Linked DNA regions of Homo sapiens: region 2 is linked to region 1. The links come from fine-mapping of genetic effects on gene expression. Tissue or cell type: whole blood. Region 1 holds a variant in brackets; the other region holds the start of a gene. All regions are shown on one strand. Distances are between the middles of the regions.

What was found. PIP is the estimated chance that this variant, and not a neighbour inherited with it, causes the effect.
Region 2: it holds the start of MINDY4, and the variant in region 1 is fine-mapped to the expression of MINDY4 in whole blood (TOPMed, PIP above 0.99).

The regions. Positions count from the first base shown.
Region 1 is chr7:30,879,310-30,884,452 of GRCh38, forward strand. It overlaps MINDY4 (MINDY lysine 48 deubiquitinase 4), which reads left to right. Exons shown (of 18, transcript NM_032222.3): 16 at 2,872-3,052; 17 at 3,612-3,684. INMT-MINDY4 (INMT-MINDY4 readthrough (NMD candidate)) reads left to right here. Exons shown (of 20, transcript NR_037598.1): 18 at 2,872-3,052; 19 at 3,612-3,684. Among named protein-coding and RNA genes, the nearest start is that of AQP1, 30 kb to the right of the region's middle. RefSeq lists an enhancer at 4,735-5,143. The variant G/A (reference allele first, on the strand shown) is at 2,341.
Region 2 is chr7:30,769,454-30,774,596 of GRCh38, forward strand. MINDY4 (MINDY lysine 48 deubiquitinase 4) reads left to right here and starts at 1,964. Exons shown (of 18, transcript NM_032222.3): 1 at 1,964-2,103. The coding sequence starts at 2,041. All of the region lies in intron 3 of INMT-MINDY4 (INMT-MINDY4 readthrough (NMD candidate)), which reads left to right. RefSeq lists silencers at 1,845-1,894, 1,955-2,004, 2,375-2,524 and an enhancer at 2,080-2,374.

The DNA of each region.
Region 1 (5,143 bases):
GGTACGGAGAAGGCAACCATCTACAAGCTCAGGGGCACGGCCTTCAGAAACAACCCTAGTGACATCTCAGACCTCCAGCTTCCGGAACTCTGAGATAATAAATGTCTGCTGTCTGAGCCATCCAGTCCGTGGTATTTGTTATGGCAGCCCGAGCAGACTAATGCAGAAACTAAAATCCAAAACTTCTCACCACCCCCAATGCCCTGCCAGACCTGCACCTGCCTTCCTCTCCCACCTCAGCCCGCACCACTCTCTCCCGCAGGCTGGGGCTTCTCTCGGGCTCTCTCCCACCTCCTGGCCTTTGTGCACGCTGCACCCTCCACCTGCCCAGCTTTTCCCTGTTATCGTTTTGACTTAAACGTTACTTCCTAAAAGGCAGCCTTTCCTGCCCTCATAACCCCATCTAAGTAGGGGGTCCTTCTCATTGTCCCCTCCATACCTTGTCAATCACCATCAGGGTATCTTAATTCTTTCCTTCATAGGGCCTCCTCTGGATTTTAAGCATCGCATTTCATCGCCTTTAAGATGCAAACTTGCCCACATTTGAGCACTTCTGAAATTCTGATGCATTGTTACAGTTGATGGTGTGTCAGACTTTGACACACCTGCTTTTTCTTACTTAGTGATACAAAAAATAATGGCGAATCTGAGGGCATCCTGGATTCACTGAAGTGCAGTGGAAATGTGTGGGTTTGATTATTTAATTAATGTGTCATCCCCATCAATCTGGTAAGCTCCATAAGGACAGCACTGTTCTTATTGTCTCTAGCACTATGTCCCCATTGCTGTTCCTTAGAAATGCCACACCATAACTCTACGCAAGTAAATGCTGACCCTTTGAAGTGAGTGCTTCTAACCTGGCTGTCCATGGATGGCTTTAGGCCATTCACAACCCCCGCCCTAGAAGATTAAGTAATCCCTAATTGTGCTACATGTTCCCCCACCAGGACAAAGTCCCAGACTGTGCTGTAGGAAATGTGGCCCTCCCCCGCACCCCCCCCCACCCCCGACTGCGGCCTTGCCCCAAGCCTTTGGTTACCCAAGAATTTAAAGGAAGTGAATTTCATCTCTGGAAAATGTCACCCACTTGGAAAGAGGCTCCTGAATGAGGAAACTCATTTATAAAGTCTGTGGGCAGCTTTTTTCCCTTAATCTCTCGACTGTTACTTCTGCATGGCAAGCTGCACTTTTGTCTCTCCGTTGGAAAATTCAGGGTGGCTGATTATGCAAAGGCCTGCTCCCTGGTTGGCTTTGGGACTCTCTCCCTGCCGTGAATGAATGCTGGGTCCCTGTGTCAGGGTTCCCTGTTCCTGGCGATGCCCTCACCAGAAAAGCCTCTTTGAAGCATGGAATGGAAGCCAAGTTTACGTGGGGTTTAGGCACGTCCAGCCACGTCCTGTAAGACATCTAATTCCCCCACACTTCACTAAGGAATGAGCTCTGCAGTCCACTTCAATGGCACACAGGGCTGGGGTGAGGCTTCGGTGTGGGGGGAGGGGACACTTGAACCGTAAGAAAGGATGAGTGCGTTGTAAAGACTGTCCCCCTACCTTCTGGAGGAGGCAGCTTTAAATGTGCAGGAATTTCACTGGGGACCTGGTTCAGGACCTTCAGAGCACAGCCCCTCTGTCAGAGACATCCCAGATCAAGATGGGAGCTGCTCACCCACTCTCCTGTAAAGGGTTCTGGAAAAAGTATGCCCTTCTCCCCACTGGAAAAATAATTCCCATTCTTTCTTTAATCCACAGGCTGTAGCTGTAAATACCTGAGCATGCAAACATCTCCCTGGGGCTGGTAGGGATTAGGCCAGAATCAGCCTGGCCCGTGGCACGTACATAGCTGGATAAACCAGGGCCCAGGGTCAGGAGAGGCGCTGGCCAAGAAGTGTCAGGGGCTGGGGGAAAGTGCATGGAGGCCAGGCATTCAGGGGCTTCACAGGGGGCCCTTGTCACTTCTCTTCCCATTGTAGTCAAGATGCTAGCAACGTGCTGAGGGCCCTGGTGCTTATTCCTCTGTGTCTTCTTCCACAAACACTTCCACCATGTGAAATTCCCCTGCTTGGAATGCTCCTTATCCAAGTGTTGCTGCAACCTCAGTGCCCTGCTGCACCCTGAATTTCTCTGTCCCTCCATTCCTGGCACCCCCACAGACTTCTCACTCAGACCTTTCCCTCCTGGCTCCCCAGGGCTCCATTCCTAGTTGTCTTTACCGTGCAGTTCTAGTTCAAGTCCTGCTTCATCCATGAGGAATTTCATTCACCCGACATTTACTTACCCCGGGCTCCTGGAACTTAAGGGTATGATCTGTCGAGCATGAGGCAGAGGTGCTGCGGCTGAGGTG[G/A]GTGGGCACCTAGTGATGTGCTCCCTGGGAACTGGAAGGAGGAAACTATTTCTGCTCCAACAAGGGATTTGGGAGATGCAGGCTGTCCAACGGTAAGCAAGCTCTAGGCTAGTGGACAAGCTGAATTTGTTTGAGGGGTGTGGGAAGAATTGGTTAGGAGGTCACTGCCGTGGTGCAGGTTGGAGGCTGAGTAGATCTCAGGAGGAAAGGCTGGCAGTGGGGGAGCTCTTGGATGCAGAATGAGCAGTACTGGGAACCATTAGATGTGGGGGATGAGGGGGCGAGTGATACCGGGTCTCAGGTCTGTATGGCAGAGGCCCTGCGAGCAGCAGCAGGTGGGGTGGCAGGGCAGGGATGGCCCTGGGAAACAGCCCAGTGGCCTGAGCAGCGTGAGGGGCTCCCAGCATCAGACACAAACGTGATCTTCAGCAGGGCCTCTCTGAGGTCAGCCCTGCCTTGAGTCAGACAGAAAAATGCCCGGACCCCTTTCCCTGGGGACGGCATTTCACATCAGGCCTCTCCCTCATCCAGGTTGGCTGCTTCCTGAAGACCCCGAGGTTCCCCATCTGGGTGGTTTGCAGTGAGAGCCACTTCAGCATCCTCTTTAGCCTGCAGCCGGGGCTCCTGCGTGACTGGAGGACTGAGAGGCTCTTTGACTTGTACTACTACGATGGCCTGGCCAACCAGCAGGAGCAGATCCGGCTGACCATTGGTGCGGGCCCTCACCCCCCCACCCACCCAACCCTGTCCCCAAGGAGCCTCCAGGCTGGTCACAGAAACCAGCCTTCCTATCCACCACCAACCCCCATGACAGAGAGCAGTGCAGACTCCAGCATCCAGACTGGGGGATCAGAGAGCCAATGCCAGCAGGGCCTCCCTGCAGGAGGCGGCCAGAGCTGGGCCTTGAGCAGTGAGTGGCATTAAGGGCGTTGGGTAAAGCCTACACCACATGGTAAAGAGCCCTGAATACTATGCTGACAAGTTTGGATGTATTCTTCAGGCAGTGGCGAGCCATGGAAGGTTTTGGAATCAGGGTGGTGAGATCAGAAGTGTTTTTAGAAAGAGTATTGTGGTAGCTAAAGTGGGACACGGGTGGGGACCAGTGAGTTGTGCAGGTGAGAATGGATGTCAGGGATGAGGGTGGGTCCAGTTGAGATGGAGAGGAGGGGACAGGGACTAGAAGGGGGCGGGTCTCGGGAGTGGTCAGCGCTGACCTCAGGGTGAGTGCAGGGCCCTGGGTGACATGTGTGTGCCTCTCTCCTCCTTCCCAGACACCACCCAAACCATCTCTGAGGACACAGACAACGACCTTGTCCCACCCCTCGAGCTCTGCATCAGAACCAAGTGAGTCAAGCCCCTCTCTGGCTTTGAGCCTCACCCTGAATAGCTTTGAGGAGCCATGGTTGGGGGTGGTCAGGCCTGCAGGAAGGCAGATAGGTTCCTGGACCACCCTGATTCAAAGAGGTGTGGTGATTGGAAAGACACAGGTTTCTCCACTCGTGGTCACTGGGGCCCAGGTTCAGGAGTGTGTGGTCTGCAGTGGTGATGCGTCTTTAGACAGCTTCTGAGACTGCCTTCATGGTTGGGGGTGGGGGCTAAATGGGCACCTCTTGAAGCCCCTCCTCCCTCAAGGCAGCAGCAGCCAGATGTGGCAAGTACCGTTAGGCCCGAAGGAGGCAGGACAGGGGTGCTTACCTGAGGGTGGGGGAGGCTTGAGCAGGATAGGAAGCTGGGAGGCCTGGCCCAGCCTGGGGGTGGCAGGAGGTGCTGCCTGGAGCGACACCCTCTGCTTGCGGAGGAGCCGGAGGAGCAGCTCCGCCACTCTGAACACTGAGCAGTGTGCCTCTGGCCTCAGAGGCAGGTGGGAGCTTCAACTCCTCTGACCCAGCCCCTCTGTATTTAAGGGGAGGCTGAGGCTCAGGCCAGGGGAGGGGAATGTTCAGTAACTGGGGTGAGTTGGGGCTCACCTCCTTGCTGTGTTCTCTGAGTGGGCCCCTGGGCTGGTGGTGCGGTAGCTGTCAGAAGTGCTCCCCTTGCCCCGGCAGGCCCTTCACAAAGCCCTTGGGGCATGACCCAGAGGCCTCAGCGTGCATGAGAGGAGCAGCCCGGGAGGGAGAGGCCTGGATCCTGGTCCCTTCTGGGGGAGCAGTGGAACTGGTAACCTTTATGAGTGTGGGCTCTGGAGAGAAGTCGCCTGGGTTCCAGCCCTGGTGTTGCTGCTTCTTGGTGTGAGCCACTGGACCTCACCTTCCTGCACCCCACTTTGTCATCTGTAAAATGGGGGTGATGCATACCTTTCTCACTGGACCTTGTGAAGAGTGTCTGGGACGTTACTAAGTGCTCCATGGTGTTTGTGCTCACGATGATGACCTCAGCCACTCCTGATTTGGTGTGATCTCAGAGAATCTCCATTTCTCTGCCTGTGAAATGGTTGGGGTTGTGACGGGGGATGCAAAATGGTGAGGCCCTGCAATGCTTACTGCCTGAGATCCAGGGGGCACAGCAAGCTTAGGGTTGATGCCCACCACAGGAAAGCGAGCCCTTGAGAGGAGCTGCAGAGAAAGAGAAATGTTCACATGGTGGAAACACCAGGAAGGGGAAATGGGAGGAGCGCCGAGACATCCTCGACATGCTTTGTCCGTCCGTCCGTCCATCCGTTCGTCCATCCACCTGCCCGCCCCCTGAGCCAGGGATGAAGCATTCTTGCAGGGTCATGTGCTGGTGCTTCTTTCGTCGGGAGGATTAAGGGCACCTGCAGGTCGCTTTCCTTTCATGTACAAAGGGCCACTCATTCAAAATGATG
Region 2 (5,143 bases), 110 kb before region 1:
CTGTCTCATGTTATTCTTTCATTATTACACATCATCCATCAGTGTGTCTTCACAGCTGGAACATGAGGGCCCCTGGACCAAGCATCATACTGTCTCCTGCAACTCTGCCCTTCTCTCTCTACATATAAGAGCACATGGCTCTTTCTCACATAGCACAACATGTTCAAAAGAGGCTTCTCAAAGAACCATTGCACGTTGAGAGGGGAAATTGCCTGGAGATTATGGTGCAATCTGCCACATTAAAGCTACGTCCTATGGAGACTGTATAGGGTGAGATAGTTGCTTCCCAAGTGTGGTACATGTGCCAGTGGTGGTTGTAAGGTGATTTAGGTGAATGCATACCTTTCTGGTTTTGTGTTTGTTTTAATGTGTATTAGAGATTTAATAAGCACATAAAACCCAAGATCTTGTGGCTATTACTGCTTGGGAACACTTTCCTTTTAAAATAAATTGTAAAACATGTATGTGGATTTAAAGAAAATAATACATAAGTAACTGTATAGGGGTTAAGGGCTGAATTGTGTCTTTCAAAACTCCTGTGTTGGGCCGGGTGCGGTGGCTCACGCCTGTAATCCCAGCACTTTGGGAGGCCGAGGTGGGCGGACTGCCTGAGGTCAGGAGTTCAAGACCAGTCTGGCAACATGGTGAAACCCCGTCTCTACTAAAAGTACAAATATTAGCTGGGCACGGTGGTGGGCGCCTGAAATCCCAGCTACTCAGGAGGCTGAGGGAGGAGAATGGTTTGAATCCGGGAGGTGGTTGTTCACTTGGCAGTGAGCCGAGATTGCGCCACTGCATTCCAGCCCGGGCACCTGAGCGGGACTCTGTCTCAAAAAAAAAAAAAAAAAAAGAAAAAAAAATTCCCGTGTTGAAGTCCTAATGCCTGGTATTCCAGAATGTGACTGTGTTGGATAGGGTCTTTAAAGAGGTGATGAAGTGGAAATGCAGTCATTAGGGTGGACCCTATTCCAATACAACTGATGTCTTTATAAGAAGAGATTAGGACACAGGCACACACGGACGGCTAGCCACGTGAAGACACTGGGAGAAGGTGGCCATCTATAATAGAGGCCAGGGAGAGAGGCCTCAGGAGAAACCATCCAGCTGACACCTCGATCTTGGTCTGTAGCCCTCAGAACTGGGAGACAATAAATGTGTTGTTTAAGCCACATGGTCTGTGGTACTTTGTATGGCAGCCCAAGCAAAGGAATACAATAGGTAACATGCGGAAGTGGCAAAGATTGTGAAGGTGGAACCCAGGTGACTAAGTTCGGGGAAAATGTACTGGGCTTGGTTAGAAACCCAACTTTCCCAGTACCCAGCTGTGTGGGCCTCAGCAAAATCTTAGCCTTTCTGAATCTCAGTGTCCCGTTTTAAAGAATGGGGCCAACAGTAACTACCTAGCCAGGAAGTTGTAAGGATTAAAAGTGCAACCGTGAGTTAAGAGCTTGGTGATCAATAAATGGCAGTCTCATTACGGGAAAGCAGGCACCAAGGGGGCGAGGAACATCTCCTTTAATTTCGGTGCCCAAGAAGCAGAATGCTGGGCTTCCTTGCCCCCACCGTCAAGGCCCGCCAAGGTCAGTAGCGTTGGTGGCCCCAGAGGGGGCCGTGGTGCTGAGGGTGGACCTGAGGGGGTCACTTCCCTGTGAGTTTAGTCCTCCAGAAACAAGGAGGCAGGTATTCTTCCCATTTTATGTCTAGGAAAATGGAGCCTCGGAGCGGAGCGGTAATTTGTCCTAGGCCTCTCAGATGACCAGGGCCAGGGTCAGAGTGAGGCCCCGAGTCCGGAGCCGTGGACGGGGCCCTAGGCGACACCAGGGCGCCCTGACTGCGGCCTCCCACTCCGAGACGCGAGTTTGCGGGACGCTCCACCCCTTCCCTCCCGCCCCAGCCCGCCAGCCCCAGGGAAGGGGAGGAGTTCTTGCCGCGCCGACGCCGCCGTCGCCACGGCAACGCGGCCATACTGCGCCGGACAGACCCAGTTGCCTGGTGCTGCGGCCCGGCGTGGGCCTCGTGGGCAGAGCCAGAGCCAGAGCCATGGACAGCCTCTTCGTGGAGGAGGTGGCCGCCTCCTTGGTCAGGGAGTTCCTCAGCAGAAAGGTAACGGCTCGCCCCCTCCAAAGCCCAGGAAGTGGCTCTAATTTGGGGGGATCATCGGGGTCTCCCCTGAAGGCTTTGCAGCTTCTGGGAGGGCGCCCGTTCCCTACCTACTGCCTGCTCCAGAGATGCCCCAGAAGAGCGCCGCTTTCCCGGGACAGGGGAAACTACATTTCCCACGAGGCGTTTCTGCCGTCGTCACCGGGCGCTTCCGCAAGGCACGGTTTGGACCCCGTCCGCTGCCCTCCTGGGGCATCCGCGCTCCGGGGCGGCGGCAGCTGGGGAGGGGGCCTGGGGGCCGCGCCAAGCAATCCTAGCGCGGGCGCACAGCGGGCAGGCCTGCGCCCTAGCCTGGCTGCCGGCCTCCGTGCGCTACCCACGCAAGTCAGGGTCCCACTCGGAAAGAACTTCTCCCAGAGGGAACCCCAAAAGCCCAGAAAAGTTCTTGACGGTCAAACCCTTAGTCATTTTAGTCAACAGTGGGAATTCCAGTGGTTGCTTTAATTTTTGTAAGTTTTCCTATTGTCTTGTCCCAGGAGAGTTTTTGCAGTGTTCACAAGCTTGGAAGGTCCTTAGCTGTCATCTGGCCTCAGGGTGGAGATGGGGACCTCGGTGGGGAAGGAGCTCGCCGGGGGGTCTTGGGCGTGGTAGTGGAGGGGGACATACATTAGCTCATTCAGCACATGGTGACTGAGGGCTGCACTCTGTGTGTTTTGTCTGTCCTTGCAGTGTCATACTGGGCTAGGGCGATGGGTACTTGTCTTGTATGAAAACACATACACGTAATTTTTTGAATGGAGGAAAGGGGAAGGACTTTGAAGTCAGACGGAGACAATTCAAATATTTGCTACTAGTTTGCAGTGTGAACCTCAGTACTTTACTCACTGTCTCAATTTCGTTATCTGTAAAACAGGAAAGTAAGACCTACTCTTTGCAGATTTATAATGAGGATTAATATTAACATATGGGCAGCTTCCAAGCATTGGATCTGACATATAGATACAATGTGCACGTAGGTGTTCAACTTTATACCTCCTCCCACCCTCACTGTTTCTGACACCAAACAGGTGTCTCTGAAGTGCACCTGTTTGGAAAGTGTCTTTGTGTGTTTTTTATGATTTATTTTTATTTGAAAAAATTTTAAATGCGTTTGGCTTTGTCGCATCTGCCCTGTCTTTATGGCTAATTGACCTGCCATCACCTGTCCTGGCTGCATGTTGGATATCAATTGACACACCCTGGAAAGCTGACTGTTAACATCATTTCTTTTAAGTCTGGGTCACTGAAAAAAACTCTTAGAGAGGGCTTCCTCGTGTTCTTTCTTGAGTACAAATGAAATCCAGTGTCCTCACTGACATCCAAGCCTGCCCTGTAGCTTGACCCCAGCTTACCATCTCAATTTCATTTCTAGCCTCTCCCACATCCCTCCCCACCACCCCCCACTTGACATGGCCGAGTTCCCCTGGTCTCCTCTCCCTCGCATGTTTTATCTGGGCACACTAAGGCCCTAAGAGTAGAAAGGAGTTGCCCACAGTTACTCAGAAGGTCACAGTGAGCTGGGACTGCAGCCCAGGTATACTGCTTTCTCATCGCCTTCTGCTCTAGGGCAGAGACCACGTGCTCCCCACAGGGTTTTGCACAGGCAGTCATTGCACCCAGCAGTCGTAACCAAGAGAGCTGCCACCTTGGTGCCAGGTACCTAGAAGGTGCTGGTTTGTTGTCTCAGATCCTCGTAACAGTCCTGAAAGATAGGTATAAGTATTCCCTTTCACATAAGATTATTGTGAGACCAGGAGGCCAAGAAACTTGCCCAGGGTGAGCAGGTCAGACCATGTAATTCCCCTGCTCAAACCCCTCTACTGGCTTCCCATCATAATTAGACTTCAAGTCTCTCCATTACTTGGCTCTGGCTACCCTCAGACCTCATCTTCCATGACTGCTTGCTCCGCCCTCTACCCTTCAACCACTTTGGCCTACTTGAACTCACCAAGTGTGGTCTTCCCTCGGGGGAGTCATGATAGTCTCCTGGAGATGGCAGGGTCTGCTGAGGTGACTCTTCTGCTGCCCCAGCTTCTTGAGTCTGTGGCTCCACTCCTGCAGTGACTGTGCCATCCTCCCTCTGCCACCCTGCCCCATGGTCATGAGCTGGGCTTGTTGTTACCAGTACTGCGCCCTTTCTGTAATCTCAATTCCAAGCTTCCCACCTGTCAAAATTTCTAGCTTGTTTCCCATCATAGCCCCACGTAAACTCTTCTCCAGCCTCACCACATCTATATTGCATTGTTCCTGCCAACTTTTCACAGTCCCTCGGGCCTACCATAACCCACCTACCTCTCACCCACCCATCCTTATAATTGCACCCTCCATAACAGGTGCAGCTCTTTTGCGCTTCTCTCCTTTCATCATTCTCTTCTGACAGTAAAATTCCACTCGTCCTGCTCTACACTTGCGCCCATAGAGCTGAATGAGATTGGAGAGAAACACACACCACTATGTTGATGGTATCACTCTAAATCCATGGCCACTCACCCTTGTGGTGCCTTATGGGTGCCTGCCCACCTGGTTGCAACTCTCCAGACTGTTTACCCTCTGAGACCCTGGATGACCATTTCATACCTTCTCTCTCTTCAAACCCTGAAGCTCCTTCCCCATCTAATTTCACTGAGAAAACAGAAGTCTTGAGAGAAGTCCAGCAGGCTCCCACTACCACACTTACTCACCTTCCTGGGCTGCACCATTCACTCTGCTCTCTTTAGTGTTCTTGTGGATGAATTCTCCATACCCCTGGTTAGGCCCACCCCTCCATGTGTGCATGCCCTCTCTTGTGTGCTCAGGGATGTCGCTGTCTCCTGCACCATGCATTTCCCTCCTCTACTAGGTTACTCCTATCAGCACATGTTGTGCTCCTGCAGAATCCCATCTTGACCCCCAAACCCTAGCTACTGGTTTATTATTTCCTCCCTTTCTATAGAAACCCCATAAAGGACCTGTGTCTACTTTCATTTTAATTCTTTTCTCTGCTTTCTCGAACCCATTTTAATCA